Linked DNA regions of Homo sapiens. The protein of the gene in region 6 interacts with the protein of the main gene of each other region in a biochemical or structural test. Each region holds a gene or a part of one and is shown on either strand. Other genes may lie near its edges. The genes, in order: KIT, ADGRG1, RASSF6, KHDRBS1, RALBP1, PALS2 and MTMR1.

Evidence for each region.
Region 1: the proteins of PALS2 (region 6) and KIT interact in a test that uses a peptide from one of them, tested with the Homo sapiens proteins (one large-scale study listed by IntAct).
Region 2: the proteins of PALS2 (region 6) and ADGRG1 interact in a test that uses a peptide from one of them, tested with the Homo sapiens proteins (one large-scale study listed by IntAct).
Region 3: the proteins of PALS2 (region 6) and RASSF6 interact in a test that uses a peptide from one of them, tested with the Homo sapiens proteins (one large-scale study listed by IntAct).
Region 4: the proteins of PALS2 (region 6) and KHDRBS1 interact in a test that uses a peptide from one of them, tested with the Homo sapiens proteins (one study listed by BioGRID).
Region 5: the proteins of PALS2 (region 6) and RALBP1 interact in a test that uses a peptide from one of them, tested with the Homo sapiens proteins (one large-scale study listed by IntAct).
Region 7: the proteins of PALS2 (region 6) and MTMR1 interact in a test that uses a peptide from one of them, tested with the Homo sapiens proteins (one large-scale study listed by IntAct).

What each region holds. Positions count from the first base shown.
Region 1 is NC_000004.12:54,730,522-54,734,684, reverse strand, and holds part of KIT (mast/stem cell growth factor receptor Kit isoform 1 precursor), read right to left. Parts: intron 3,358-4,163; coding exon 3,266-3,357; intron 2,815-3,265; coding exon 2,687-2,814; intron 1,616-2,686; coding exon 1,493-1,615; intron 1-1,492. UniProt on the Homo sapiens protein: Tyrosine-protein kinase that acts as a cell-surface receptor for the cytokine KITLG/SCF and plays an essential role in the regulation of cell survival and proliferation, hematopoiesis, stem cell maintenance, gametogenesis, mast cell development, migration and function, and in melanogenesis.
Region 2 is NC_000016.10:57,651,967-57,656,129, reverse strand, and holds part of ADGRG1 (adhesion G-protein coupled receptor G1 isoform b precursor), read right to left. Parts: intron 2,928-4,163; coding exon 2,795-2,927; intron 2,145-2,794; coding exon 1,997-2,144; intron 732-1,996; coding exon 600-731; intron 255-599; coding exon 138-254; intron 1-137. UniProt on the Homo sapiens protein: Adhesion G-protein coupled receptor (aGPCR) for steroid hormone 17alpha-hydroxypregnenolone (17-OH), which is involved in cell adhesion and cell-cell interactions.
Region 3 is NC_000004.12:73,585,431-73,589,593, forward strand, and holds part of RASSF6 (ras association domain-containing protein 6), read right to left. Parts: intron 2,505-4,163; coding exon 2,410-2,504; intron 1-2,409.
Region 4 is NC_000001.11:32,030,708-32,034,870, reverse strand, and holds part of KHDRBS1 (KH domain-containing, RNA-binding, signal transduction-associated protein 1), read right to left. Parts: intron 3,348-4,163; coding exon 3,231-3,347; intron 1,684-3,230; coding exon 1,537-1,683; intron 1-1,536. UniProt on the Homo sapiens protein: Recruited and tyrosine phosphorylated by several receptor systems, for example the T-cell, leptin and insulin receptors. Once phosphorylated, functions as an adapter protein in signal transduction cascades by binding to SH2 and SH3 domain-containing proteins.
Region 5 is NC_000018.10:9,481,750-9,485,912, reverse strand, and holds part of RALBP1 (ralA-binding protein 1), read right to left. Parts: intron 1-4,163. UniProt on the Homo sapiens protein: Multifunctional protein that functions as a downstream effector of RALA and RALB. As a GTPase-activating protein/GAP can inactivate CDC42 and RAC1 by stimulating their GTPase activity.
Region 6 is NC_000007.14:24,691,446-24,695,229, reverse strand, and holds the end of PALS2 (protein PALS2), read right to left. Parts: 3' UTR 1,037-3,784; downstream 1-1,036.
Region 7 is NC_000023.11:150,731,076-150,735,238, reverse strand, and holds part of MTMR1 (phosphatidylinositol-3-phosphate phosphatase MTMR1), read right to left. Parts: intron 3,770-4,163; coding exon 3,620-3,769; intron 2,698-3,619; coding exon 2,509-2,697; intron 1-2,508. UniProt on the Homo sapiens protein: Lipid phosphatase that specifically dephosphorylates the D-3 position of phosphatidylinositol 3-phosphate, generating phosphatidylinositol. Could also dephosphorylate phosphatidylinositol 3,5-bisphosphate to produce phosphatidylinositol 5-phosphate.

The DNA.
Region 1 (4,163 bases), on a different chromosome or scaffold from region 6:
GCGGTAACATATATGAGTTTCCTTCTTCTTATCTTGTTCCAGAAATTCTCCTTACCCACTAGCCTGGTGAAAGCGAGATCTGTGATTGGTTAGTTCAACTGACTTGAACTGGAGTCTACAATCTGGAAGCCTGATAGAGCCAACCCCTCTTTGTCATTTCAAACTAAGGTCACTAACCAATAACAAGACAGTATGTAACCACCGTCACGATTATTTAGATCGTAAATAAGACATCTATAAAGAATAGTAACAATATGTCTGGCACTGTCATAAGCACTTTACATATATTAACTCATAACTTTCTGAGTCAGGAATCACTATTATTCCCAAGGGGAGAAAAACAAAGATTCAGAGGTATTGGACAACTCTTGACAAAATTACACAGGCATGAAATAATGGAGACAGATTGCAGAATTCATCAAGACTGGGCCTGGAGGCGGCCACCTTCTTCCTCCTCCCTTTGGTCAATATTCAGAGGACTGGATAATTAACGACTTATCATTCTTCCTTCCAAAATTGCACCAGGATGAAGAGAAGTTGTTTTTATTATCACTCCTGATGATAATATCTAGCTTCAGGGCAGCCTTTTCAGAAATTCATGCTTTGGCCAGGAGATAAACACAGAAACACTCTTACAAAACCAAATCGAGTACAGGCTACCAATAGAGACGCCACAGTGATGGGGGGAAAACATTACATTATCATAAGGGGCACAAAAATCCACCTCCAGGAATAAATCTGGACTGCAGAAATGGGCCCAGGAAGACAGGCAGAGAATATTATAAAGGGCAATATGGTTTTCCATGGCGATGGGATGCCACTCTGGAAATCACAGGCTCTAGTTTCAGCCTCTATTGTCCTGTGTCACCTCAGATAAAAAGCACTAAAATATGCCATGCCTTAGTTTCTCCAACTTTTAAAATAGGAAGGTGCTGCAATTATAGGACAAGGGTTTGTTCTGAGGATTCAATAAAAATTGGCAAGGAAATACAGCACTTTGAAAAACATTTGCTATGTTCTACAAACCCATTATTACTTATGAACCTATTTAATAGCTCTCCGTGTATTCTAGGATCCAACATTCTATATGGCTAACTCTGAATATGATCTTAGATTTTAATATTTTTCACACGGCATGCCAATCCCCCCAAAATTTCTCCTGCTGTGACCTTCAATGACCTACATTTGTTACACTTGAGCAAAATCAAGTTCATTGCTATTCTCAGGCTATAATGAAAATTAAGGCTATTTCTGTTTCCTTCACATGCCCCAAAATTACACAATTAGAATTAGGACTTCTATTATTGAATGTTAGTTGTAGTAATGTTCAGCATACCATGCAAATTTTGCTGAAGTATACTTAATTTGACTGCTAAAATGTGTGATATCCCTAGACAGGATTTACATTATGAAAATCACAGGAAACAATTTTTATCGAAAGTTGAAACTAAAAATCCTTTGCAGGACTGTCAAGCAGAGAATGGGTACTCACGTTTCCTTTAACCACATAATTAGAATCATTCTTGATGTCTCTGGCTAGACCAAAATCACAAATCTTTGTGATCCGACCATGAGTAAGGAGGATATTTCTGGCTGCCAAGTCTCTGTGAATACACTATTAGGTTGGAGGAGAAAAGAAAACCATTTAAATTCATTTTAACTTGTAAAGAGTGAAAACTAACTTTTTAATACTATAGTGTTGCTTATATTATAAAAAATCCAATACTTTTGTTTTAAAGTATTCAGTACACCAAAAATAAAAATCAAAAGTACGCCTTGAATGATGTTCACATAATCAAGAGTCTAATTATTATAATCTCTTTTAAAAGCAATTCTAATAAATGCTGTTTTCTTCTCAGGACTGCTTTCATTCATAGGGAAATACATAAGAAATAGTCATATCATATTGTTTAAACTGAAAATTCATTTTGCATGCATCTCTTTGAATGTCCTTTCACAGAGTTCCTAATATGCCTTTGCAAATTCAATCTGACATCTCCCAAGGACACACGGAAGAAGGTCTTTATTTCAGCCATCTTATATCCTTTCTTAGTTTGGTAATTGTTGGGAAATGTCACCCATGACATTTAAGGGTAGGACTGGTAACTCATTCTGTTCGGTTAATCTTACTTCCTAAGGAACTCCTTTCACCCTTCCACAGACCATGCTCCTTGTTTTGGTTCCATCATTCTTTCCATTCCTAACCTTCTCCCAAGTGTTTATTACTCCCTCTGACCCCTTATTTCCTGACACTTCATAAGCCACACATATAATATTTGGATCTAACTTCAATAAAACTCAAGTCTATGCTTCACCCCAAGCCTTGTAACTATGAGGTGCCCTCTGCTTTTACTGATAAAATGATTCTGTTCTCTAGGAACATATCCTATATCCTAAAAGCCAAAAGTTTTAAAAGAATTTCACTGCATATAAAAGAATATTCATAGAAAAACTCATTTAGACAGGCTTGTACTTTACAGCTTATAAATTAGAACAGGAATTCCAAAGAGACAGCAGTTGGAACATGAAGAAACTAAATTTCCTCTGCTTTTGGTTACCACACTTCAAAATGACATTCTGCATTTTAACTATGGCTCTAAAATGCTCTGTTCTCAAAAAAAAAAAAAAAAAAAAAAAAATCAAAAAAACAAAACACAAAACTCTTTAGAGAATCACTCCCACTTACATTCTTGGAGGCGAGGAAAGCCATGCCCTTTGCCACCTGGTAAGAAAAGCTCAGCAAGTCTTCTAAGTCTAGGGCCAACTCGTCATCCTCCATGATGGCGGGAGTCACATCTCTTTCTATGTATGAGCCTGTGAGGAAGAGAGGATTTTTCTTAGCAATTACAACCATAAAGGTCAGGAAAGGAAAAGACAGTGGCAATGACATACCAAAGGCTGGTAATGAATGAACTAATGTGAACTTGCAGGCAGATCACTTCCCTGGTGTCCAGGAAAGGTAGATGCTGAATCACAAAGTTAATATTTAACAATCCTAGGCTGGGTTACAAAATCCATAGAGGAGAGGGATGGCGAATTAAAGCAAAGATCCCATATCTATAGAAAGATACTCAGGCACAAAAACATATGCTCTGACCCCAAACACCCACTTGCAACCCTAACTGCCATTGACCATTGGCACTGCTACCATAAAGCAGAACTGGTCTGCATCATTGCTACTGGGAATGATGTTATATTCCACATTAGCATGATATACATACTCTCTGTAAAGTTACTCTTGGTTGCTTGATAGGTAGGTACTCACCTATTCTCACAGATCTCCTTTTGTCGGCCTTGGTTGGGACAACATAAGAAACTCCAGGTTTCATGTCCATGTACTCATTAGTACTATCGCTGCTGGGAGAGATGAAACAAGTCATGACTGAATCAAGTGGGACATGTAGAAGGGCACTCATGGGTCATGCTCTACCTCCTCATCCCCTTTGCTACATAATAGACTGGACCAATTTGAGGAAAGTCATGTAAAGTTTGAATAAAGAGTTTGAAAATCCTGTTCTGTAAGAAATGAGTTTTTAATAATCGATATTGGGGTCCATGCCCAGAAACTAGGTGTCCTTTTTGTGTATAATCATATAGAGGACTCAGGTTAGAAATTTCCCGTCTCTTGACACAATGAATTTAATGGGAGACAGAGAGCCAAATATGGTATCCCGTATTACCTCAAACTCTCTAAATGAGCCCCAGGAGACAAGATGAAAGAAAGACAAAGAAGAGCTTCCAAGACGTGTTATGCAGGAGGCAGAGATCGTTAACATATAGTGACTGATGGAGGAAGGTTTAAAAAAAAATCAAGTTGGTTCAGATAAACACCAATAATTTGGATGATTTTCTGAACCATCTGGACCTCTTCAATCTGCAACATTTGGCTGGAGACTCTTCAAGATTTCTAGTACTTCCTGCTTCTGATTAGCATAGAAACACCATGACAACAATCTCCTTCAGAGTGTGCTGGTGGTTCCAATCCCATATGGGATCCCAAAGCACAAAGAACATCACACAGGATTGAACAATTTAGGCCATTATATCAGAAAGTTAAAGGATATATATAGGGCCAAGGTTTCGGAAAGAAGCAAAATGGCTCATTTCTTCATATAATGAGCACATGCCCAGGAGAAACTAACAAAAAGTGGTTTTGTACAGTT
Region 2 (4,163 bases), on a different chromosome or scaffold from region 6:
CCACCCGCCCCATTTGGACCTGACTGCTCGATCAGGCAATCGTTTCATTATAAAGACAAATGAGTCTGGAGGGAGGGAGAGGAAAGGGTGACATGGCCGAGGGGCGCTTGTTCTCTTGATGGCTGGCCCCCACTCACCGGCTGTAGCTGGTGCTGGAAAGTGAGCACCACGGGCTCCGTGAGGTTGGCTACTTTGGTGTTCTGTACCACAATCCCCAAGACCTTCTCACCCAGGACTTGGCTGGAATTCTTGTCCTAGATACATGGGGTTGGAGGAAGAGAGTAGGGAGGGAGTTCAGGACTGAGAAGAAGGGCCCAGAAGCCCCTTACCCTCTCTAGATAACCCTCTCCCAGCACATTGCCTTGAGATGCTGCGTCTCCCTCTGGAACCACTTTTGCCCATGTAGTCATTTACACTATAGTAAGAAGAACATTGCTTAGCCCTCTCACAGGGAGATTTGCACATTGCAGTGCAATTTGTAACTTTACAAGGAAAGGCTTTGACTCCCAGAGGAAGGAGCTCATCTGCGTGCCTTCTTTCCACCTCTGTCAGAAAAAAACTGCTTTCTCCTGGGAGGCATGAGGGTGAGGACCCCATACCTGGAACAGGGCTTGGCTGCTGAAGTCCACCAGGAGGAGTCTCTTCTCAGCCTCCCCGCTCCGGCCTTTCGTCCTCTGGAAGAGTGTTCGAGGCAGCAGCACCGAGTACTCCATGATCTCGCTCTGCTCCTCCTGCAGAGGTCCCTTTAGGGCTCAGCCAAATGCGGACCCCTAGATCCGTGCCCCCCACCCTAGCACACACACACACACACCCATCCGTTCCTGGACGCTGCCACTTCTAAGCCCATTTCTTCAGGAAGTCAAGCCTGACTCATGACAGCCCTCCTCATCCCTCCCTTCCCTGCTACCAGCTCTGGCTGGGGAGTCTTGTGGTTAGAATCCAGGACTCCAGGGCAAATAGCCCTGGGAGAACCACATGATGTTCTGTTGTCTGGGGCTTCAGATGCCAGCTCTGCCTACAGCAGCCAACTTGGGGGTGGCCATGTGGGCAGTGTGGGTGGTTCCCAGCTAACCAGAGCCACTCAGGGGGCAGTCTCAAGATGGGGTGTGTGGCTGGGTGCAGTGGCTCACGCCTGTAATCCCAGCACTTTGAGAGGCCAGGGCGAGAGGACTGCTTGAACCCCGGAGGTCAAGACCAACCTGGACAACGTAGCAAGACCTTGTCTTTACAAAAATAAAAAAATGTTTTTTGAGACAGAGTCTCGCTCTGTTGCCCAGGCTGGAGTGTAGTGGCACAATCTCAGCTCACTGCAACCTCCGCCTCCCGGGTTCAAGCGATTCTCCTGCCTCAACCTCCCGAGTAGCTGGAATTACAGGCATGTACTACCATGCCCGGCTAATTTTTATATTTTTAGTAGAGACAGGGTTTCACCATGTTGGCCAGGCTGGTCTCGAACTCCTGACCTCAAGTGATCTGCCTGCCTCGGCCTCCCAAAATGCTGGGATTACAGATGTGAGCCACTGCACCTAGCCTTGCAAAGAATTTTTTAAAGCCAGGTGTGGTAGCAAGCCTGCAGTCCCAGCTGCTCACAGGCTGAAGTGGGAGAATCGCTTGAGACCAGGAGTTTGAGGCTGCAGTGAGACATGATTACCCCACTGTACTCCAGTCTGGGTGACAAAGCAAGACCCTGTCTCGAAAAAAAAAAAACGGGGGGGGGGGGTGCGTGGACAGGCGTTTAGGGGCTGGTCTTCTGTTCACACGGGTGGCCCCAGGAGACTGGTATAGGAAGCAGACCCTGCCACTGTGCCCACACAGGGTCCTCAATCCCACGGTTGAACTACTGACTTAGGATGGCTATCCTCGGGCCTGGAACCTTCTCGGGAGGCCCCAGGGAGAGGCTGCGACGGCACTGAGCTTCAGGGAGTGCTCACAGCCCCCACCTCCATCTGGCCCCGGCCCAACCCGCATCTGCTTCCTGCCCAGGCCTGCCCCTGACCTCCTGCCGGGAGTGGATGTGCAGGTCCTGGAGGCCGGCTGTGGGCTGGAGCTTCCACACCGTGGCGTTGATCCGGTCCTCCTCGAAGGACACCATGTCCCCCATGAATCTCACAGAGGTCAGTTTCGACTCCAGGCTCTGCAACTGCCTGGCAGGGAGGAGAAAGCGGTGGTGATGGTGGGGAGGGGGCCGGGCCACCAGGGAGACTGAGGCAGGAGGACGAGAGACTCAGACAGAGACACAGGGAAGAGGCAGAGGCAGAGGCAGAGGCAGAGAGAGGGGTGGGGTGGGCAAGAGAGAGTGGAGAGCAGACAAAAGAGAAAAGCAGGCATCTGCGTGTGGGAGAGAAAGAATGAGCTGGGGTAGGGTCAGACAGAGGAGGCCAGGACCTGGGAGCCAAGGGAAAGGAGAGCAATGGTGTGGTGGGGGCTGTCCTGGGACTCAGCACCATGGGTTTGGGCCCAGCTCCGCCTGTGCCAACCTACTCTGTGGCCTTGGAGCGGCTCTGCCGTCTCTGAGCCTTGGTCTGCTGGGCTGTACTGTGGACCACCCATCCTTTCTTTATGAGGGGGAGGAGGGCTTGGGATGGTGGATGTGATGTTGGTTACTGACTCAGACAGGAGAGGGCTCAGCCTGGGGGGCATGTGTTGACTCCCAGAAGGCAGAAAGAGAAATCAAAGAAGCATTCCAGTCCCAGGGAAGGCCTCGCAGTAGCCCCTACTCCAGGTCCCACCCTGCCCAGGTCCAGATCTCTGATGCCTTCCTGCCTCCCCTCACAGCCCCAGGTGCCAAACTTACTGGCTGGCGGGGGCAGCCGAGGGCCTCCTTGAGGCCTTCTGGGGATGCTTCAGGAACTGGCTGAGCAGCTGGAGGTCCCTTTTGAGCTCGCACATGTCCACCGAGGCATTGTGAGCGGCCGTGTGGGGAGGACCTGGGGGAGGGGTGGACAGGCCCCCGCCGAGGCTGCCGATTCAGGTCCCAGGACCCTCCCATTCTGCCCCCTACCACCCTGACATGACTCTGAATGCCTCGATCTTTACTTTACAAAGGGGAAACTGAGGCTTCAAGAAGCAGAGTGGACTCTGCCAAGGCCACTCAGATGAGGCCAACCCGTGGGGGTTGTGTCTTACAGAACCCGCCAGCAATGCCAGCCCCAGCGGGATGGGGTGGGATGTGCCTTGCTCAGCACCCTCCGCAGACACCTTCGGCTACACACACGGAGCAGAGAGGGCCCAGCCAGGCCTCCTTAGGAGGGATGTGCGGGGCTTGGTGGTGGTTCCTGGGACTCCACACCCACCAGCCTCCCTGACTCCAGGCTCGGGCCCCTCTGCCCAGGTAGCGTGGGCGGCCTACTAAGGCGGCCGACTAAGGTGTCTCCAGGGATTAGCTGGGACTCAGATGAGGAAGACAAACAGTGGGGGTTGGAGGGTATACTTTCTGTGCCACTGAGGAAGGCAGGCCCTGGGTAGCTCCATCTTTTGAATGCATAACCGAGAAAGCCTGGGTTTTAGGTGATTTGAAATCCCTGGTCCATGTTTTTTAAAAACCCTCTACAGGCCAAACAAGACCAAGTTCAGTCTGGTCTTCAGAATGCCAATTTGCAACTAGGATCAACTTTGCCCTAAATCCTCCCAGGTTGCGGGGCAGAATCCCAGCCTGGGGTGTGGGGAACCCCCCACCACTGACGGGCCTGGGCCTGCCTGTTGCACTGGACATAATCATTAGCCTGTTACACTGACACAATCAAAGTGCTGTGCCCCCCACCCCTGAAAGCCCTGCCTCAAACTTGAGGTGCTGGAAAGACATGAAAACCCCCCAGTAAACCTTCAAGCTCCTTCTGATGCTCCTCCCTTCCTGGCCACCATTCAGCATTTAATGGTGCTGAATGGCAGTGGCCACATGTACCTGTCACACTCAAGGGGGAAGATGCAGCTTCTGGACCTCAGAGTCAACCCCACTGCTTTCCTGACCTTTGACCTCTCATACTCCGCCCCTCACCCCTACCCCACTCCAATCAGCTGCTGGGTTCAAATCCTGGCTCTCCCATTGGCTAGCTGTGCAGCTTTGGGCATCCTCTCTGTGCCCCAGTTTCCTCCTCTGTGAAAGGAAATAAACAGTCTACACTGATGCTGAGGAAGAATTCTTCCTGGGGCTCTTGATCTTCAGT
Region 3 (4,163 bases), on a different chromosome or scaffold from region 6:
GTGTATGCTTTCATTAATTTTAGGAATATTGCTATTTTCTGGCTGTGTAAAAGCATTATAGTCCACTGCTTAGCTGCATATTTACTTATTAAATGTTGCCTGAGACTGACTCAGCAAATTCTGCCAGTATCTCATATAAAATTCTTATGTCTCATTCTTATGTTTCATAAGAAATGATCACAATGATCATGTTTGGGGTTTGGGCATTCCTTTAATCTTAATTTATTGGGGAGTGCATTTTGTGGCATTTCAGAGTGTTAGAGCTGGAATAAACCTGATACTTTATCAGGTTTGATCTCTTACAGGTAAGAAAAAGTACAGTGAGTTGAAGTGGCTTTCCTATGGACATAGTACTCATAAATGATAGAATCAGGTCTGGATCCTTATTTTTTTATTTTTATTTTTATTTTATTATTATTATACTTTAAGTTTTAGGGTAATGTGCACAATGTGCAGGTTAGTTACATATGTATACATGTGCCATGCTGGTGTGCTGCACCCATTAACTCGTCATTTAGCATTAGGTATATCTCCTAATGCTATCCCTCCCCCCTCCCCCCACCCCATTATATGTTGGCCCAAGTTCTTTGGAGCTTTTCCTAAAAAATAAACACTGGGCCTTAGTTTTCCTATAAAACTACAGAAAGCTCTTTGAGAAGCTATTTATATGGTATGTGGAGCATTGAAAGATTTTGTTCCCATCTTTTATAAAAGCAAAAGGAATAGTATGCTTTGGACTAGTCCTACTATTTGTAATATATCACATTATGTTCTTTTTAGAACATTCCAGATGTATGATATGAATGACTTTTTCACTTAGTTGTCCACTATCCTATTATTTCTTCTCATTGAGTCATGTATATTTAACAATGATTCATAATTGATTAGTCAAAATTTGGTTACTGAATTATTACAATTTCTATAGCAGATTTTAGAGTATAAAATTATAGTGTAGCGTTGAACAACTCTAGTATCTATTGAGTAGGCAGAAGGTGTTTAAATGGAATTGAATTGAGCTACAATGTGTTACTAGCCTAAGATGCAGAAGATTCAAACCTGCCTTCTGCCCCCCTTTCTGCTTGTATACAATTGATAGTACCTTTTTCAATTTCCTCTCCTATGCATATTCATATGTAAGAATAAGACCATGTGGTGGCATTTGTGTTTTATTTTACTTTAGGATTTTAAAAAATTTTCTACTGTAATTAGAACATTATCAAATAGGCATGAGATATTTCTTCCTTCTCTAGCACTGCTGTTTAAATACAAATATATTTTTATGATGTCTTTGATGCCAAGATACTGGGATTTCCTTGGGTTTCATATATATTTCTAAAAGATAATTGGAAGGGCCGATATTTAACAAGATGTAAAGATCCCATGGCATAAAGAGAAAAGGGAACCCTGGAAGGAACATCATGTTTGTCACAGGATCTGGGTTCCTGTGGAATAGCAGACGAGGCAGAATTGAGAATGATTTGAAAAAAAAAAAAAGAGAACAAACATTGCAAGTTGCTGGTAGGCTTATGAAGTTAATGCTAGTGGGATACCTTTGTTCACACTGAACTGACTTCGTAAATCACAGCCCCATTTCAGGCACATGAACCCTGTCCACCACCCCTCATTCTAGCTTCAGTCATCAGCATCCACTACTCTTTGAATCTTATGTGTTTATGAGAATTACATGAAAAAATTCATATAAAGTACAAAATATTATGCCTGATACTTACCAGAGTCTCATCAGATTACAGCTATCAATATCACTATTATTACTCTCACATCATCACCATTATGATTATAACTACTAATGTCACACATCCCTGGAGCTGGCATTTCCCATTGGTTTGCCAAGTTCAGTATGGATCCATTTGATCCTTAAGTATATTTCTCTTTTAAAAAGATCTCTGAAATAACTCTATCAAATATAAAATTGACTCCAGCATATCTGTGTCTTTCTGAGAAGTAATGTTATTGACATATCTATTAACTAACTAAAACGTTCAACTTCTAAAAAGATACAGAATTAGGTCTGATGGGCTTGGCCTAACATATAAAGCTATTGGGAATAATAAATGACTCTAATCTTTGGGGAAGATATTTAACAATTTTATGAATACAAACTTTATTAAAACTATTAGCTCTCCCTATTCTAATAAATCTAAGTGACATAATATAATTTTTTTAAGAATTATATTTTTATATACCAAAGTAAGGTTCTTAAACATCATACAAGCACTATAGTGACTTAAGTTACTATGCTCCTAAGATATTTAAAAATATATATACATATAAAACAAGAGTTTATTGTGTAGTAGTATGAAAAAGGTTAGATTTCAGAGAAACATATGGAGTCATACTTTACACTAATTAAAAATTAAGTCTCCCAATCAATAAGATTTTGATACTGACCTTCCTGGGAATTCCTTTTTTCAGACATAGGAATCTGGGTCCTGTCCAGCTCACTAATACGATAGAGATCGTCAAATTCCCCCCAGCGTGTCATTCTGAGAAGTAATAAATCTTGTAAGTACATCAGTTCCATTTATATTGAAGCCTATGATGGTTTCCAGATTTACAATATTAATATAGTAATACTGTGGGCCTCTGTAGGTGGATATATTGTCCAAAGTTATAACAATTTTATGATATTATTAAAATTATATTCATACCAAAGTGGTCAATATATGTTTTAAATGCTTCCTGTACTTTTATAGAGCATATCTTTTTGACGTAATAATTCAGTTACATACTGAAACACAAGTTATATAGATTCTGTAAAACATATGTCCAAATTGAATTAGTAGAAACCAAGATGATCAATTGTTATAAAGATATTTCACAATACTCTTAGGGGAGCTTGGGTATAAAAGTGTTCTTTATACATTCTGTCAATATGTATTGTACCTTTTGCATTCAAAACATTGTTAGGTAGAGTGGCTCTAAAATAATAAAATATAGTGCCTATCGTTTAAGGCCCTTGACTACCATGAAGAATGTAGTTTACGAAGGAGGAAAATGTATGAGAATTTTGCCAGAAAATTATGATTTCATAAAGAAACTAGCAATTTTAAGTGCATTCTAGTGCTCAGAATACATGAAACCTGACAAATGTTTATTTTTACGGCAGGTCAAAACTCAATTTTATTTTATTTATCTGGTCTTAAACAAGTTTCTTATCCCCTCTGTGCCTGTGTCCTCATCTGTAAAATAAAAATGATAATAGCATGAGGTAGGATAGGGTTGTTTTGAGGATTAAAAGAGTTAATTTGTATAAAATTCTTGAATCAGTGCCCTGAAAATAGTAAGCATTCAATATAGATTAACAATAATTATAATTATCCTCATCTCCATTGTCATCATCATCATCATCATCATCATCATCATCATCACCAGCATCTGTATCTATTTCATTCCTGATGGGCCAGGAACCATTAGGGACCCAAGGTGTTCCTGGATCTCTCTAGGCAAATGGTTGCTATTATCTAAGAATCTCTTCAGTAATGTCTGTTTTTCTTATGACTAAAATATATTCACTTATAGGGAATTTATGGCATTGACTCTGCCCGAATTTCATTGGTGGCAACAAAAAATATTTATTAATACTAATGGTAGTGAATATGAAGAAAGTCATCCCTTATCCTCTTTACTTTTGAATTCTTTTGAAGCGTGTTTTATGGCTACTATATCATTTGAGTCTCACAATAGCCTTATGATGTAGAGAAGGTAATCCTAATATATTTGTTAATTTTCCAGCAAGCTGTACTATTCAGAATACAGCCAATCAAAACAAATGTCATAAAGCCCAACTACAGGTAATAACTTTAACTCAAAGGAAAACTACCAGGTCCTGACTCAGAATCTAATTAGTCTTATGGCAGATAAAATTACCCATTTCCCCAAATCTATAGCAGCTTAATAATCAGAAAGTGGCAGACATAATTATCGTAGAAGGGGGGTTAGGAATGGAAAAGTCAATACCAATGAAAAACAGAAACTAAAAATGCAAAGTAACCTGATGCTATGTCATAGGGCTAAAGATAAGAATCCCCAGGATGCCAGTCAAATTCTCGGTGACCCTCGCAGACGTGACAGCTTAGTTTTGTCACACAAATATAGGAGGCCAAAAGTCATCCAATATATTCTGTGTTTGGCCCCTTATTTTT
Region 4 (4,163 bases), on a different chromosome or scaffold from region 6:
TAGCTGGGACTACAGGCGCCTGCCACCACGCCCAGCTAATTTTTTTTTTGAATTTTTAGTAGAGACGGGGTTTCACCATGTTAGCCAGGATGGCCTTGATCTCCTGACCTCGTGATCCACCCGCCTCGGCCTTCCAAAATGCTGGGATTACAGGTGTGAGCCACCGCGCCCTGCCTCATGTTGAACATTCTAATGAAGATGAGGTACTTGAAAGCAAAGCAGCTGCTAAGACATTTGAGACTGTTGGAATCCTTGGAGTTCAGCATTATGGGTACACAATGCCTAAAAACTTATTTATTTATTTTTTTTGGAGATGGAGTTTCACTCTTGTTGCCCAGGCTGGAGTCCAATGGTGCAATCTCAGCTTACCGCAACCTCTGCCTCCTGGGTTCAAGTGATTCTCCCGCCTCAGCCTCCCTAGTAGCTGGGATTACAGGCATGTGCCACCACGCCCGGCTAATTTTGTATTTTTAATAGACAGGGTTTCTCCATGTTGGTCAGGCTGGTCTCGAACTCCCGACCTCAGGTGATCTGCCCTCCTCGGCCTCCCAAATTGCTGGGATTACAGGCGTGAGCCACCGTGCCTGGCCCACACTGCCTATAAATTTTTGCCCTATCAATTTTCACATCATCTGACACCACATTTAGTTCTAATTCCCTCATTTAACATTCAAGAAAACCAAGGACTGTATCTTACCTCCTCCTAGTTTTCTGATGAACACATGACGCTTACTCAATTCTACTTAATAATATTCCAAATCCTTCATAAGTCTCCAGATTCATCCTTGTTATTAAATATTCAACAGTAGTATGTTAACTCTGACAACCACCAGGCCTTGCTAAAAGGCAAAAATAGTACCATTTCCTATTTATTCAAAGTAATATTCCAACCAAGTATTCAAAGGTGGTAACAAGCAAGATAGATAAACTGGCCTGTCCCATCTCTATCTAGTCCTCAGTAATAGTCTGAAAAAAGCTGCTCACCTATCTGTTAAACATCAATAGTCAACCTCTTCCAAACTAAACTCGTCCTCAGCAAACTCCTCCAGGAAAGAAATCCCTGAGTGTGCTCAGGTCAGAATTTAACCCAATAACACTAGATGCTATAAGCTTCTTGCTGCTAGTCTCTACTCTCTACAGCATGAACTTCTTGAGTGCAGAGACCCACCTTAGTCACTTTCCTAACACAATCTCCTTGTTCCACACTACTACCAAAATACTCAGCTAGGTGAAGACCCTGTTAAACCTTAGTTAACCAAATATCAGAATGCAGGCACACTGTGGACCCGAGATACTGACAAGATACCGGTACACAATGAAAACCACATTAGACAAGGAGGGATAGAGTGGCCTTGGAGCATAATGCTTTGAGAACTAGGTGCAAGTAACGAACTACCTAAGGAAAATGAACATAAGTGCAGAATTTGGTATACATACAGGTTATGCAGAGACCTTAGTTAAGAACCCCTACCTTCACAACAGTATAAGATCCCAGTTCTCTTTTGCTCAGAAGACACAGGATATGGATTTCCTTACCGGTACTAGAAATTTCTTGACTTCCTCCATGGCATGGGCCATAAGAGCATAAGCCTCACATGGGGGTCCAAAGACTTCAATGAAGACATGCAGATCCATATTCAAGTGGGCATATTTGGGGTCTCCACCTTTGCGCAGCTCTTCCTCCTATGGAAAAATGCAGAGAAATGTCACACCATGGACTAGGGAGAAAACACCACCTTTACCTCTAAGCCAAAGGAACAGCAAGAAATACCCCTAATGTCCATGAAAAACAGTAAAGTTAATTGGTATGAGCTGAGAAGAATTAAACAAAAAAAGAAAAAAGAAAAAAGAAAAACAGTAAAGTTTAAGAAAGTAAAACAAGCAGCCAGGCGCGGTGGCTCACGCCTATAATCCCAGGACTTTGGGAGACTGACGCGGGAGGATCACAAGGTCAGGAGTTCGAGACCAGTCTGACCAATGTGATGAAGCCCCGTCTCTACTAAAAATACAAAAATTAGCCGGGCATGGTGGCGCACGCCTGTAATCCCAGCTACTCAGGAGGCTGAGGCAGGAGAATTGCTTGAACCCGTGAGGTGGAGGTTGCAGTGAGCCACTGCACTCCAGCCTGGGCAATAGAGCAAGGCTCCCTCTCAAGAAAAAAAAAAAAAGTAAAACAAACTCTCAAGAACAGTAATTTGCACAGCCTGCTAAACTTGCACATGGTCTGCTGCTTACAGTTAATTGTTGTCTTAAATCCCTGAGATATCCATTGGAGCTCCTACTAAAAGCATAAAGAAGAAAAACTTAATTCTAGTCTATTCAGATAATAGCTGTTTGCCAAGCATTTGTTTTTAAATCACAGGTAGAGCTGTTAATCACCACGAGCTCTGCTTATCTGCTTATATGGTCTAGGGAGTGGTAGGGGAAGAAAGAAGTCAGGACAGAGGGAAGAAAAGCTCATGTAAATCTCATTAGTTAGAACACACTTCAGCCGTAACTATATGCATCTAGCAAGAAATGACCTGAGAAAACAAACATGTGTCCATTAGACTACATAAAAGGAGGGTTGAAAGAATTGGTTTTTGGACTGTAGCAGGAATATCTCATCAAATAAGGTGACCCCAGAAGGCTAAGACTATTCTGTTTTGGTGAGAAGTTTCTTGTCACAGAGTACACAGCGTACGCGGCTATGGCATGGGGAAAAAAAAGACGCATTAGATTCTGTAGTCAGGATTACTCATGGTTCCTTTTGGAATACATTCTTTTAGTGAGCCTCACATTCCAAACCGGCTATAAAACAAACCAACTAATCCTCAAACTCATCTGCTCTCACATTATTGTTCTCACTTTTCCAGGTTACAAAAAAGGGGGTGTGCTATTTGCATTTTAGCGTCTTTTGTCTGCTTTAGACTAAATTTTAGTATATTCAGTTCCCCTTTCAAGTTTTCACAGACAATCCTACCAATGCGCAACATGCTACTGCTGTTTCCATTACTACACAGTCAAAAAGTCCAAAAGAAAACTATCACCAGGGCACACCTAGGCTCTTCCAGGGTTGCCAAGCCAAGTAAATTAACTTGGTGTATAATCTCTTGCATCCAGTGCAAACTTAAAGGAGCCACATTCTGTACACATACAAAATTCTTGCCGCCTCTATAAGACATCCATACTGCATTCTGGGCAAGTAGAAGGCATTAGGATGTCCTCTTGCCTCACTAATGTGAGCTTACCTTGGCTTTGTCTCTCATTGAGCCCTTTCCCAATACAGAGATCTTTGCACCAGTCTCTTCCTGCAGTCTTTTGATTGTATTCCCTTGTGGTCCAAGAATCTTCCCCACAAAATTGAACTGACAGAAAATAGAGGATTTCTAAATATACATGCTACTATATAAAAACATTTCCACATAAATTACCTCACTTGATTTTAAACAACCCTGCAAAGGTAGAGTATTACCATTCCCATTTTACTGAAGGACACTGAAGCCATATTAATAAAGTGATTAGCTTAAGGTTATGAAACTAGAAAGTGGCAGTTCCTAGACCTGAATTTGGCTTTTCTGATGTATTCTGGTGCTCTTCCATAATACATTAAGACCTTTACTATTTTATTTTTTACTTTATTTTGAGACAGGCTCTCACTCTGTTGCCCAGGCCAAAGTGTAGTGACACAATCATGGCTCATCACAGCCTCAACTTTCTGGACTCAAGTGATCCTCCTGCCCCAGCCTCCAGAGTAGCTGGGTACAGGTGCACACCACAACACCAGGCTAATTTTTGTATTTTTTGTAGAGATGGGGTTTCGCTATGTTGCTCAGGCTGGTCTTGAACTCCTGGGCTCAAGCAATCTGCCTGCATCGGCCTCCCAAAGTGCTGGCATTACAGGCATGAGCCACTGTGCCTGGCCCAGCACTTAACATACATCAACATTTTTAAGGCAGTGACCTCAGAACAGAAGAGACTATATAGCACCCTTTGATAACACGCTGGATAAACTAAATGTAACTAAATGCTTTCCTAAAAAAAAAAAAAGGAAGAAAAAAAGCATTTACTTAAAAGTAAACTTTTAGTAAGAAAATAAAATTAACTTCAACCAATTGAGGATTCATATTATATTTCCTTTTATTTAGATTTCAGGTTAGTCTTTTGACAAAGAGCAACTCTTC
Region 5 (4,163 bases), on a different chromosome or scaffold from region 6:
GATCGTGCCACTGCACTCCAGCCTGGGCAACAGAGCAAGACTCTGTCTCAAAAAAAATAAAAATAAAAGAAAGTCTATGCTAATACCAAACAATGAAGACTATCTCTTAAATATCATATAATGATAAATGGGTAAATCCATCAACAAGATACAACAATTGTAAACATACACTGCACATAACAACAGAGCCTCCAAAAGATACAAAACAAAAACTGACAGAAGTGAGAGGCGAAGAGGCAGTTCAATGATAAACGGAGACTCCCAATACTTCACTTTCAATAATGGATAGACTAGAGAAAAGATCAACAATGAAAAAGAAGACTTGAACAACACTATAAAGCAACTAGATCTATCAGACATCTATAGAACACCCCACCCAAAGACAATGTAATACGAATCCATCTCAAGTGCACATGGAACAGTCTCAGGACAGATCATATGTTAGGCAATAAAAGATGCCTCAATAAACTTTAAAAGACTAAAATCATACAAAGTATGTTCTCTGATCACAATGAAATGAAACTGAAAATCGATAACAGACAAAATGTTGAAAACTTCAAAAATATGTAGATAATTAAGCAACACACTTGACAAACACTCAACAAAGTACTCAACAAACTGGGAACATAAGGAACATCCTTAAACTGATACAGTGTATCAATGAAAAACCCACAGTTGCCAGGCATGGTGGCTCATGCCTATAATCCCAGCATTTTGAGAGGCTGAAGCAGAAGCTTGAGCCCAGGAGCTCCAGACCAGCCTGGGCAACATAGGGAGACCCTGTCTCTACAAAGCATACAAAAATTAGCCAGGCATAGTGGCTCATGCCTGTAGACCCAGCTACTCAGGAGGCTGAAGTGGGAGTATCACGTGAGCCTGGGAGGTCAAGGCTGCAGTGAGCCATGATTGTACCACTGCACTCCAGCCTGGGTGACAGAATGAGACCGTGTCTCAAAAAAAATAAGAAAAGAAAGAAAAACCCACAGTTAACATTATACTAAATGGTAAAAGACTGGAAGCTTTCCTCCTAAGATAAGGAACAAGACAGGGAAGTCTGTTATTGCCACTTTCATTTAGCATTGTATGGGAAGTTCTAGCCTGGGCAATTAGGAATGAAAAATAAATAAATAAAAGATACCCATATAGGAAAAGAAGAGGTAAAACTATCTCTGTTTACAGACAGCATGATCTTATATACAAAACTCAAAAGAATACACTAGAAAACTATGGGAACTAATAAGGAGTTCAGCAAAGTCACACGATATAAGGTGACAGAAAATAAGTTGTATATCTAAACACTAGGCAATTGTGAAAAACAATTGTGAAAAACAAATTGAAAAACAAATTTAAAAAACAATTTCATTTGCAACAGCACCTAAAAAAAAAATAGAAATAAATTTAACCAGGGAAGTGAAAGACTTGACACTGATAACTACAAATATTGTGCAAGAAATTAAAGACAAACTAAATAAGTGAAAAGACATCCTATTGTTAATGGATTGGAGGACTTAATATTTTTAAAACAGAAATACTACCCAAAATGTTTTACAAATTCAATGCAATCTCTATTAAAATTCCAATGGCCTTTTTTACAGAAATGGATCCTCAGTTTCATATGGAATTGCAAGGGACCCTGAAGAGCCAACAAATACTGGAAACAGCAAAGTCGAAGAATTCACACATCTCAATTTCAAAATGTACTACAAAGCCACAGTAATCAAAACAGCACATGGTACCTGGCATAAGGATAGCTATATCAACCATGAGAATCAAACAAAGAGTCCAGGGGAAAAAACCCAGACATTTGTGGTCAACTGATTTTTCAACAAGGATATCAGGACCACTCAATCAGGAAATAATGGTCTCTTCAACACATGAGGATGGGACAACTAGAGTACCACATGCAAAAAAGTGGACCCCCTCTGGCAGGGCGCAGTGGCTCACGCCTGTAATCCCAGCACTTTGGGAGGCCAAGGTGGGTGGATCACTTGAGGCCAGGAGTTTGAGGCCAGCCTGGCCAATGTGGTGAAACCCCATCTCTAGTAAAAATACAAAAATTGGCCGGGCGTGGTAGCGCTCGCCTGTAATCCCAGCTACTCGGGAGGCCAAAGCATGAGAATTGCTTGAACCTGGGAGGCAGAGATTGCAGTAACCTGAGATTGTGCCACTGCATTCCAGCCTGAGCGACAGAGTGAGACTCTGTCTCAAAAACAAAACAAAACAAAAAAACGTGGACCCCTATCTCACACCATATAAAAATGTGGACCAACAACTGAATATAAGAACTAAAACCACAGAACTCTTAGAAGAAAGTATGGAATAAATCTTCATTCCTTGGATTTGGCAATGTAGACATGACACCAAAAGCCTGTGTAACAAACAAACAAAAAAAAACAGATAAATTATACTGTAAAATTTAAACTTTTAATGCATCAAAAGTATATTATCAAGAAAGTGAAAAGACAACCCAGAAAACAGAAGTATTTGTAAATCATATATCTGATAAACATTTAGTAACCAAACATACAAAGAACTCTTTCAATAACCAACAATACAATTCAAAAATGGACAAAGGATTTCAGTAGATATTTCCACAAAGAGAATATACAAATGGCCAATGAGCACATGAAAAGATGTTCAACATCTTAGCCACCAGGGAAATGAAAATCTAACCCTCAACATGATACCACTTCACCCCAAGATAGCTAAAATTTAAAAAAGCAAATGGCAAGTATTGGCAAAGATGTAGAGAAATTGGAGAATTGGATTATAAAATGGTGCAGTCGCTTTGGGAAACAATTTGGCAGTTCCTCAAACTGTTCAACAAGAGTTACCACATGAGCTGTTTTCTAACAACACTTCTGACACCACATGTGGAAGTGTTTTTCCATACCAATACAGTTCTCCAACTTTCCAGACACCAACTGAGTGCCCTATAATTCAATTCTGACACTAACTGCCCAGAGTTTATGTCAGACTCCACAGGCTTAGTTCCACAAGACTACCCTCACTTCAGTTACCAGCCACAAGCTGCACATTGCCACCTGTACTTCTGACCAAATAGCTATAAATAGGGGTTCCCACAACCCCCTCCTCATGTTCAATAATTTGCAAGAATGGCTCACCGAAACTCAGGGAAACACTTTACTTATGCCTATCAGTTTATTATAAAGGATATAAATAAACCACCAAATCAAAAGGCACAAGGGTGAGGCCGAGATGGGTTCCAAGTATAGGAGTTTCTGTCCCATGAAGTTGAAGCAACACCTTCCCAGCATAAGGATGCATTCACCAACCCAGAATCTCTCTGAAAACCACTGTTTAGAAGATTTTATGGAGGTCCCATTTCACAGGCATGATTGATTACATCACTGGCCACTGATAACTGATCTCAATACCCAGTCCTCACCACCACCCCCTCACCCATCCAGGGGTGGGGCTGCAAGTTCCAACTCTCTAATCAACACAGTTGGTTCTTCTGGCAACCAGCTTCCATCCTGAAGTTGTCTAGGGGCCTACCAAGAATCACTTTATTAGCATAAATTCAGATGTGACTGAGAGACTTATTATGAATTCCAAAATATGCTCTATTACCTCTATTACTCAGGGAGTTCCAAGGATCTTTGAAGTTCTAGGCTAGGAACCAGACCAAGACCAAATATATATTTCTTATTGTATAACATCACACCCAGCAATTCTACTCCTAGGTATATACACAAGAAATGAAAACGTATGCCCGCACAAAAACTTGTACATGAATATTCACACCAGCATTATTCAGAATAGTCAAGAAGGAGAAACGACTTAGATGTTCAACTGATAAATGGATAAATGAAATGTGGTATATCCAGATAAGAGAGTACTGTTTTGCAATAAAAAATATGAAGTGCTAATATATCCTACAATATGGATGAACCCTGAAAACATTAAGTGAGGGAAAGCAGTTGCAAAAGATGATATATATGGTTTCATTTATATGAAATATCCAGAATATCTGAAATATCAAGAGATACAGAAGTAGATTAATGAGGGCAGGGGAAATAGTGAGTGACTACTGCTAATGGGGAGGTTTTTTTGGGGGAGTAATGAAAATGTTCTAAAATTGACTGTGGTGATGGCTGTACAACTCTGTATATACAGACTGTCCCCAACATACAATGTTT
Region 6 (3,784 bases):
CGTGTGTGTGGCCAACAACCACATGTAGAATAGCTCAATATCGCTGATCATTAGAGGAATACAAATCAAAACCACAATGAGATACCATCTCACACCAGTCAGAATGGCTATTATTAAAAAGTCAAAAACTATCAGATGCTGGCATGGTTGTAGAGAAATGGGAACACTCATACCTTGTTGGTGGGAGTGTATATTAGTTCAACTATTGTGGAAAGCAGTACGGAGATTCCTCAAAGAGCTAAAAGCAGAACGACCATTTGACCCAGCAATCCCATTACTGGTTATATACCCAGAGGAATATAAATCTTCCTACCATAAAGACATGCATGCAAATGTTCACTGCAGCACTATTCACAATAGCAGACACAAATCAACCTAAATGCCCATCAATGACAGATTGGATAAAGAAAATATGAGATATATACATACACCATGGAATACCATGCAGCCATAAAAAAGAATGAGATCATGTCTTTTGCAGGAATATGGATGGAGATGGAGGCCATTATCCTTAACAAATTAACACAGGAACAGAAAACCAAATACTGCATGTTCTCACTTCTAAGTGGGAGCTAAATGATAGTATCTTATAAACACAAAGAAGGAAACAACAGACACTGGGGTCTACTGGAGTGGGGGGTGGGAGGAGGGGGAGGAGCAGAAGAGATAACTATTGGGTACCAGGTTCAGTATCTGGATGATGAAATAATATGTACAATAAACCCCTGTGACACGTGTTTACCTATGTAACAAAACCTTCACATGTGCCCCCAAACCTAAAAGTTAAAAAATGCAAACAGTTAAAAAAAATTATCAACGCTAATCAGATATCCTCCATTATTATCTCTAAACCTTAGTTCTACCTATAAATGAAACACTTTTTTCCAATAGTAAATATTTCTTTATATATACAAAAATATTTTACCAGGAGTATATAATCTCACAGATTAGACATTTCAATAATTTTTGTTTTGGACAGCACATGGAAATATGTGAAAAGATTTATAGGGACAGTTTCTGAAAAATCAATACTTAATTGTACCACAGGAAAATTTTATTTATACAACAGCAATAATGTTTCTTTTATACAGAAACTAATAATACAATTACCTGGAAAGCAGTAGCAATTAATTTTTCTTTTTAAACTTCTTAATCAGAAACTTTAAGCAGCTTGTTCAGCTTTGATTTTCAGATTGCTAACAAGCATTCTGCCCTCCATTTTTTTTTTTAAAGATTCTCTTCTACAGTTACTTCAAAAACTAGAGGTTTAAAAAAGCATGCGTCTTGTGTTCAAATAAAAGACTTACCAAAACGAACTGGCGTGGGGGGAAAAGGAAGAATAAAAAATTCCCACAGCAAGGTTTTCACATCAAATACTCACCATAGGCTCCAACAGAGCTCAACATAACATGGAGAAATTGCACTTGTTGCTGAATACTAGTGCTCATTCTTCTACAACAGAGTCCAACATATCACTTCTTTAAAAAAAAATCAGTGTTACTGAAGAGACAGGAGCCAGTCAGCAGTTCTTTTTAAAAGAGAATACAGAGACATAAGAAATATTTTTATTGTATTTCAAATACAGATGTAGCTGAGCTATGCCTGAAATCTGGTTCTACCTGAAAAGATGGAGGCATTTCTCATTTAGACCATGTTTACCAGGACAAGCTTTATGTCTTTAAAGCAATGTTACTTACACTACTGTCCACCTCTCCTATTTAAGAATAAGATGAAAACCACACATTTTAACTGGTAATGACTTCTGGTTTAATGTTGGTAATTTACAGCTGATGAGTTTTTACATCAGATGAGTATGCTTTTTTCCTGTTTTAGTTAATTAGGCTTCCTCCAAGCTCCTAGGCTACTTTGATAGGAGGAGAGCCAAATTTCATATATGACCTGTCATATTTATGTATGTTCCTTCCCCTGGCTTGCTGTTGGCTGAAGTACAATAAAGACATCTATTTCCAATTTTAAGACCTTTTTGGCTTCTGTGGTAGCAACACCACCTATTTCATAAGATTCAAAGACAGTTGCTTTACAAGCAGTAAATCACTCAATCTTCTGATTGGTGGCATTTACCTTAACTATAGATGTGTTCATTCCATTTACACTGGAGATTAGAAAACAGTAAGAGCCAGTAGGAGGGGAAAAAAAGGAAGAGAACTATCCCTTCTGATCGACTTTTGTATGTGGAGATAAGTCAAATTTATCACACCATTGCATTATCAGCCAATGACTGAGAAGCAATTACAAAGTAATAACTAAAGTGGATTAATATCTGGATTTTGAGGTTCACAAACTAAGACCTCACTGTGAATGTTTCTTTCTATAAAGAAATAGATGCCTTTTTAAATTAATGGTATGGGTAAAACAGTAGGGCTGCAGTGATTTCAGGTATGCAGTGATTTCAGGTATAAGGATAAAGTAGGACAGTTTTCGGGGGCAAAGATCAGAGTCTTCTGGTGTAACCGAGTACTGGATTGCTTGCTTACATTTTGTTTGATTTGTGAGTGGTCTGGTTGGCAGCAAGGATTTGCTAAGGGTTTGGATTTAGTATGGGATTATAAGATAAAAGGGACTTTCTGATTAGGACTAAGAGAGCAGAACAGACCTTCCACCAGCTGAAACTGTATCTTTGGGGCTATTTTAAAACTGGAAGAATTCCTGAAAAGTATTCACCATTCACTACATTACTTCAGAAACAGGTACACTTTAAAATAACTAAAAGAGAACAGATAAAGTAGCCTAATAAGGATTTTTCAGTTCACCATATCACAGCTACCACATCAGAGTTACAAATTACAAATCAGAATTTAAGGCGAAGACAAATATTAACTTAGCCTTACTTAACAAGTAGAATAGTAATGATAAAGGGAAATATAAATTTCATCGAAGATCACACAGTCAGAAGTCAGAATTAGGATCTTGGCCAGTACCCTGTCTTTACTTTTATCACTAGAGAATATTTTTTAAAAAGTACTGCAGTGTATTGCCAAAGTGGTGTGAACCATGCTTACTTTAGAAATGAGATATCATCATTCTTTCACTGTTTAGTATATTAAGGACTCATGTTCGAATCTCTGCATTTTTCAAAAACTATTCCAAGAACACAGAAGCTAGCATGATGAATTATGGGAAATATTTTAAAAAGAATATAAATTGCAAAACGTTAGAACAAAAATGCAATTTAAAAATAACCTTACCTTAAAAAAATTATAGAACTGTCATCTTCCTCAGGTATACAATATATGCTTGCATAAAAACTGACAAGATGCTCAATTATTAGTCAAATGTATTCTTAAATTTTGTGAGTATTCATTTGTACTATATACAATAATCCCATTATTTAAAAGAATGAATTTCTCCCAAAAATTCCAAATACATTACAGATGTTATTACATGAATTCTCACAGCAAACCTCTTGAAATAAGACAAGGGCAGGTATCATAATCTCAGCCTGAATCATATTAAAGATTCATTCAAAAGTTTAAATAAGAATTTCCAAAGGGGTTTCCATCCAGAACCCTGCCCTTTTTCCCTAAGAAAATTAAATTTATTATAATAATGACTACTTTCTGAGTTTCTCATATATTTTTCAGAAAGATTATCAGCTTCAAGGTGGAACCAGAGCGTTTTAAAACAATCTAAAAAAAGTTTCAGAATGTCAAAGAAATGGGAGTAATTAAAAATTTTAGAATGCTAGTTATAATTACATGAATGAATACATTCAGTTTTATATTCATACATTTTGGGAGAATTTTACATATTATACACATAGCTG
Region 7 (4,163 bases), on a different chromosome or scaffold from region 6:
ATTCTCTCACAGTTCTGGAGGCTGAAAGTCCGAGATCAGGGTGCTGGCAGAGTTGGTTCCTTTAGGAGGGTATAGGGAAGAATCTGTTCCATGTCTCTCTCTTAGCTTCTGGTGGTTGCTGGAAGTCCTTGGCACTCCTCAGCTTCTAGCTGCATCATTTAAATCTCTGCCTCTATTGCCACATCGCCATCTTCCTTCTGTGTGTGCCTGTGTCTCTACATGGCTTTCTTATACGGACACTAGGCACTGGATTTAGGGCCAACCCTACTCCAAGATGGCTTCATCATAATTAATACATCTGCAAAGATCCTATTTCTAAATAAGGTCACATTCTGAGGTTCCAGTTGGACAAACTTTTGGGAGACATTTTTCAATCCACGACAGTGGTTCAACATATAAAAATCAACCAATGCAATACCAATGCAAGAAGAAGATATGAAAGGCAGCCAGATTGTAAAGGAAGAAGTCACATTATCTCGACTTGCATATGACATAATCTTATATATAAAGAACCAGTGGAGACCTAGAAAATACTGTTTCCTAGACACATATACTGCCATAGTTAAAATTATTCTAGATATACAATTTAGTGTCCTGTCTCTATCTCTCCTGCATGGGATAAAACACAATGAACTGCCCTCACCCTGTTGGCTAGTCTGAAGATGGCCTCCACCAATATGGCTTTTCTCACATTTTGTAATTCCTTGGGATATGGTGGTGACAGGTGGGAGGCAGAGATGTAGAAAGACTGACACAGCTAATGATCCAGATGTGGGGAGCAAGGGGGCCTCACTGAGGGATGCCTCCCTATGGTAGGCTGAAAAGTGGCCCCGCCAAAGACATCCACATCGAATCCCTGGCAATGGTGAATGTGACCTTATTTGAAGAGAAGGTCTTTGCAGATGTTTAAGGATCCTGAGATTTGCAGATGTGTTTAAGGATTCCAAGATTAATTGAAAAGAGGGTCTTTGCAGATGTGTTTAAGGATCCAGGATTATTTCAGGTGGAACCTAAATGTCATCACAAGTGTCATTAGAAGAGAAAGGAGGAGACGCAGAAACCCAGAGCAAGAGAGGGTCATGTGATGACGGAAGAAGAGATTGGAGTGATGTGGCTGCAAGCCCAGGAAGGCTGGGGCAGCCACCCCATGCTGGAAGAGGCAAGGAACAGATTCTCCCCTTGAACCTTTAGAGGGAGCAGAATTGGCCTCCAGAATTGTGATCAATACATTTCTGGTGCTGTAAGCCAACAAATTGGTAGTAATTTGTATGACAGCCTCAGAAAACTAATACTTCCCCATCTTCCTCCCTGCCCTGTTCCTCTCCCAGTCTTCCCCATCTCAGTAACAGACACCACTATTCACCCTCAAGTCAGACACCTGGGCAACACCCTTGACCACAGGGGTGGCGAGCTTATCAGCATCATGTACTGTGCCCTGAGGATGCACTCACCACTGTGCTAAGTCATTTACATGCATTCTTCTCACTGAATTTTAATCCTCACACAACCCATGACATGAGACACTGATATTATCTCCTGTTTTACAGAAGAGGAACCTGAGGCACAGAGAGAGGTTAAGTAACCGGCTCAGGATTCTAGAGCACCAAGTGGCAGAACCTGGAGGAAAACCCAGGTGTAACTGATTCCAAAGCCAAGGGGTCTCACCAACTTGCCATCGTGCCTCTCAGGCCAGTTGGAATATACGGAGGGTTTGTGGTCTGGGAAACAGCCAAGCAGAGATGTCAACCATACAATGGGATAGAAATCCAGTCTCAACCTTAGGAGGGATCAGGACAGGAGAGAAACTGCAGTGTCAAGCTCAAGTTGAACTCAGCATACAGACAGTGTTTAAAGCCGTGTCATCAGAGATGGCCCCAGGAGTCTGTGTAGAGCAAAGAGGACCCCAGACCAAGTTCGAGGAGCAATGCCATTTGAAGACTGGGAAGAGAAATCAGTGAAGGAGATGGAGAAGGCCAGGCTGAAGAGCGAGAGAAACTCAGGGTGTGATATCATGAAAGTCATGGGAACGGAGGTGTTTTTAACCATGTCTCACTGCCACCCGAGGTACACTACACAGGTGCTCCATGAGATTTATGGAAACTTTGTACATTTACACATTTCACATGGCTGATTCCATTCTAAAAGAAATTCAGACCAGACATGAATTAATCAACTAACCACTATATTCCTTAAACGGACTTCCAAGGACCTCACGATCATTTCATTAAAATGCTAAATCCTTTAGATGATAATTGTCTTTCTAGGTCTTTACTTAATTGATTTAGCAGACAGGATATTGTAGAGAAGCAATGAAACAGACAAGATCCCAACCCATGTGAGACACCAAACACAGCCCAAGGAGCATACACCAGGGAGGAATAGCTATGGGACTCCAAATGATTCTAACTTCAGGTGGTGAGGAAATCAATGAGTTATTCCAACTGCATAATGATTTACAGACAGGACATGAAAATATCCAGTGTTTCTGCAGTGCTATTAAGAATATACCTTGTTGGTATCAGCGACACTGTTTTGTCGAGCATCAAAGATGATAAGCTTGTGTGACTGTGCGTTAGCATCCATTATTGTTTGCAAGTATTTTTCATCCTCTTTGCAGCGCTTATCATTGGGACCCACAAGTGGCTGGCTGCAACGGGTAATCGTTGCTTGACTTTCCGGATGAATCCATGACAACACCTAGTGTTTTTAAGCAATAAATATTAGTACAGTTCCTAAAGAATGTATGCTCTAATTACCTGGTAGGAAAAACAAGTTCCCTTCTCAAGCACGGTCTCTTATACATATTTTCTTCAAAAGTGAGAGTGGGCAGGCCAATCACAGCATTGTAGTGGCCATCAGACTCAATGTTTTGGTCAGGATGAAACAATTCTGACTACATGAGCTCTAAAAATCCCCTTCCATCCCCAATATTCTATGATTCTAAGAAAAACAAATCCTAAATCAAACTATTACTAAAATCTAGCCCCATTCCAATTTGATTGACTAATTTTACCTTGTCTCCTAATTTTAAAAACATCTTTGTATCTCAACAATAATATACGTGGCAGGGTAAGGACAAAGTGAATATACAGTCTCTTATAAAATCTGACACTCTGCCACCCCACCTCTCATTTTCCTCCAGTGGCCAAGTGACTCAGGATTACAACAGATGCAAACTCTGGGCTCAAACCATTACTCCCAGCTGTCTGCTACTACTTCTGTAATGATGTCCCTCCCACGCAGCTATGGCATCATGCTCAGTATCTAAGAAAGAAGCATTTTCTCTAGGATGATTCAGTGAAACCAGCAATGCCAACTGGTAATACAATAGCATGATAACTTGTTGTTGCTACTCCTTTGTCATTCTCTACTACTTTTTGAGGGTATGACTGAAGTTCCCCTTATACTTAGTTATAGGAAATCGTAAAAGAGGGAGTCATAGCAAACAGATTGTTTATATAATTAGGTATTTGTTGAGAATCAAAGGTATGTTCAGGTTTATAAGCTTATTTTTCTGCTTTCCATTTTTGTTCACTAGTTTCTTTTTTGTCTTAAATCTCTCCATATTAGATCTAACGCAATATATATTCCTATATAAATGACAATGTTTATTACTTACAGGGACTCTGCCTTTTGCTCGAAAAGCTGCCACTTTTGAAAGGTCATCATCTTTTACACTAGTTGGCACAACAATGATGGCAGGGTAGGTGTCACAGAACTCATAATTACTGTTTATTTTGGATATTTTCCAACTCTCATTTGGCAAGCCCTGTAAGGTGTTGGAGAAAGAAGAAGAGGGTGAAATGCATGACTTTACACTTTGAAAAAGTACTAAGCATGAAGTACATCCATTTCTTATTTGCAACTAAAATCCGTTTATAATTTATTGTTTATTGTAACTTAAAAGTCAATATATATATTTATTCGGTAAAACCCATTTCCTAGACATTTCTAAAAATCTAAAGAAGCATAAGAATATCCAAACCATACTAAAACATGAAAATTATACGCTAGAATCACATTTCTATATATTTCTTGTCCTATTTTCTATAAATAATGAGCTCTGTTATTTTTGAGAATATACTCAAAAGTCCTTTAGAAACACAGATACCTCTTACGAATGTCTAAAATAAGTAACGTAAAACATTATACCAAATATAAGG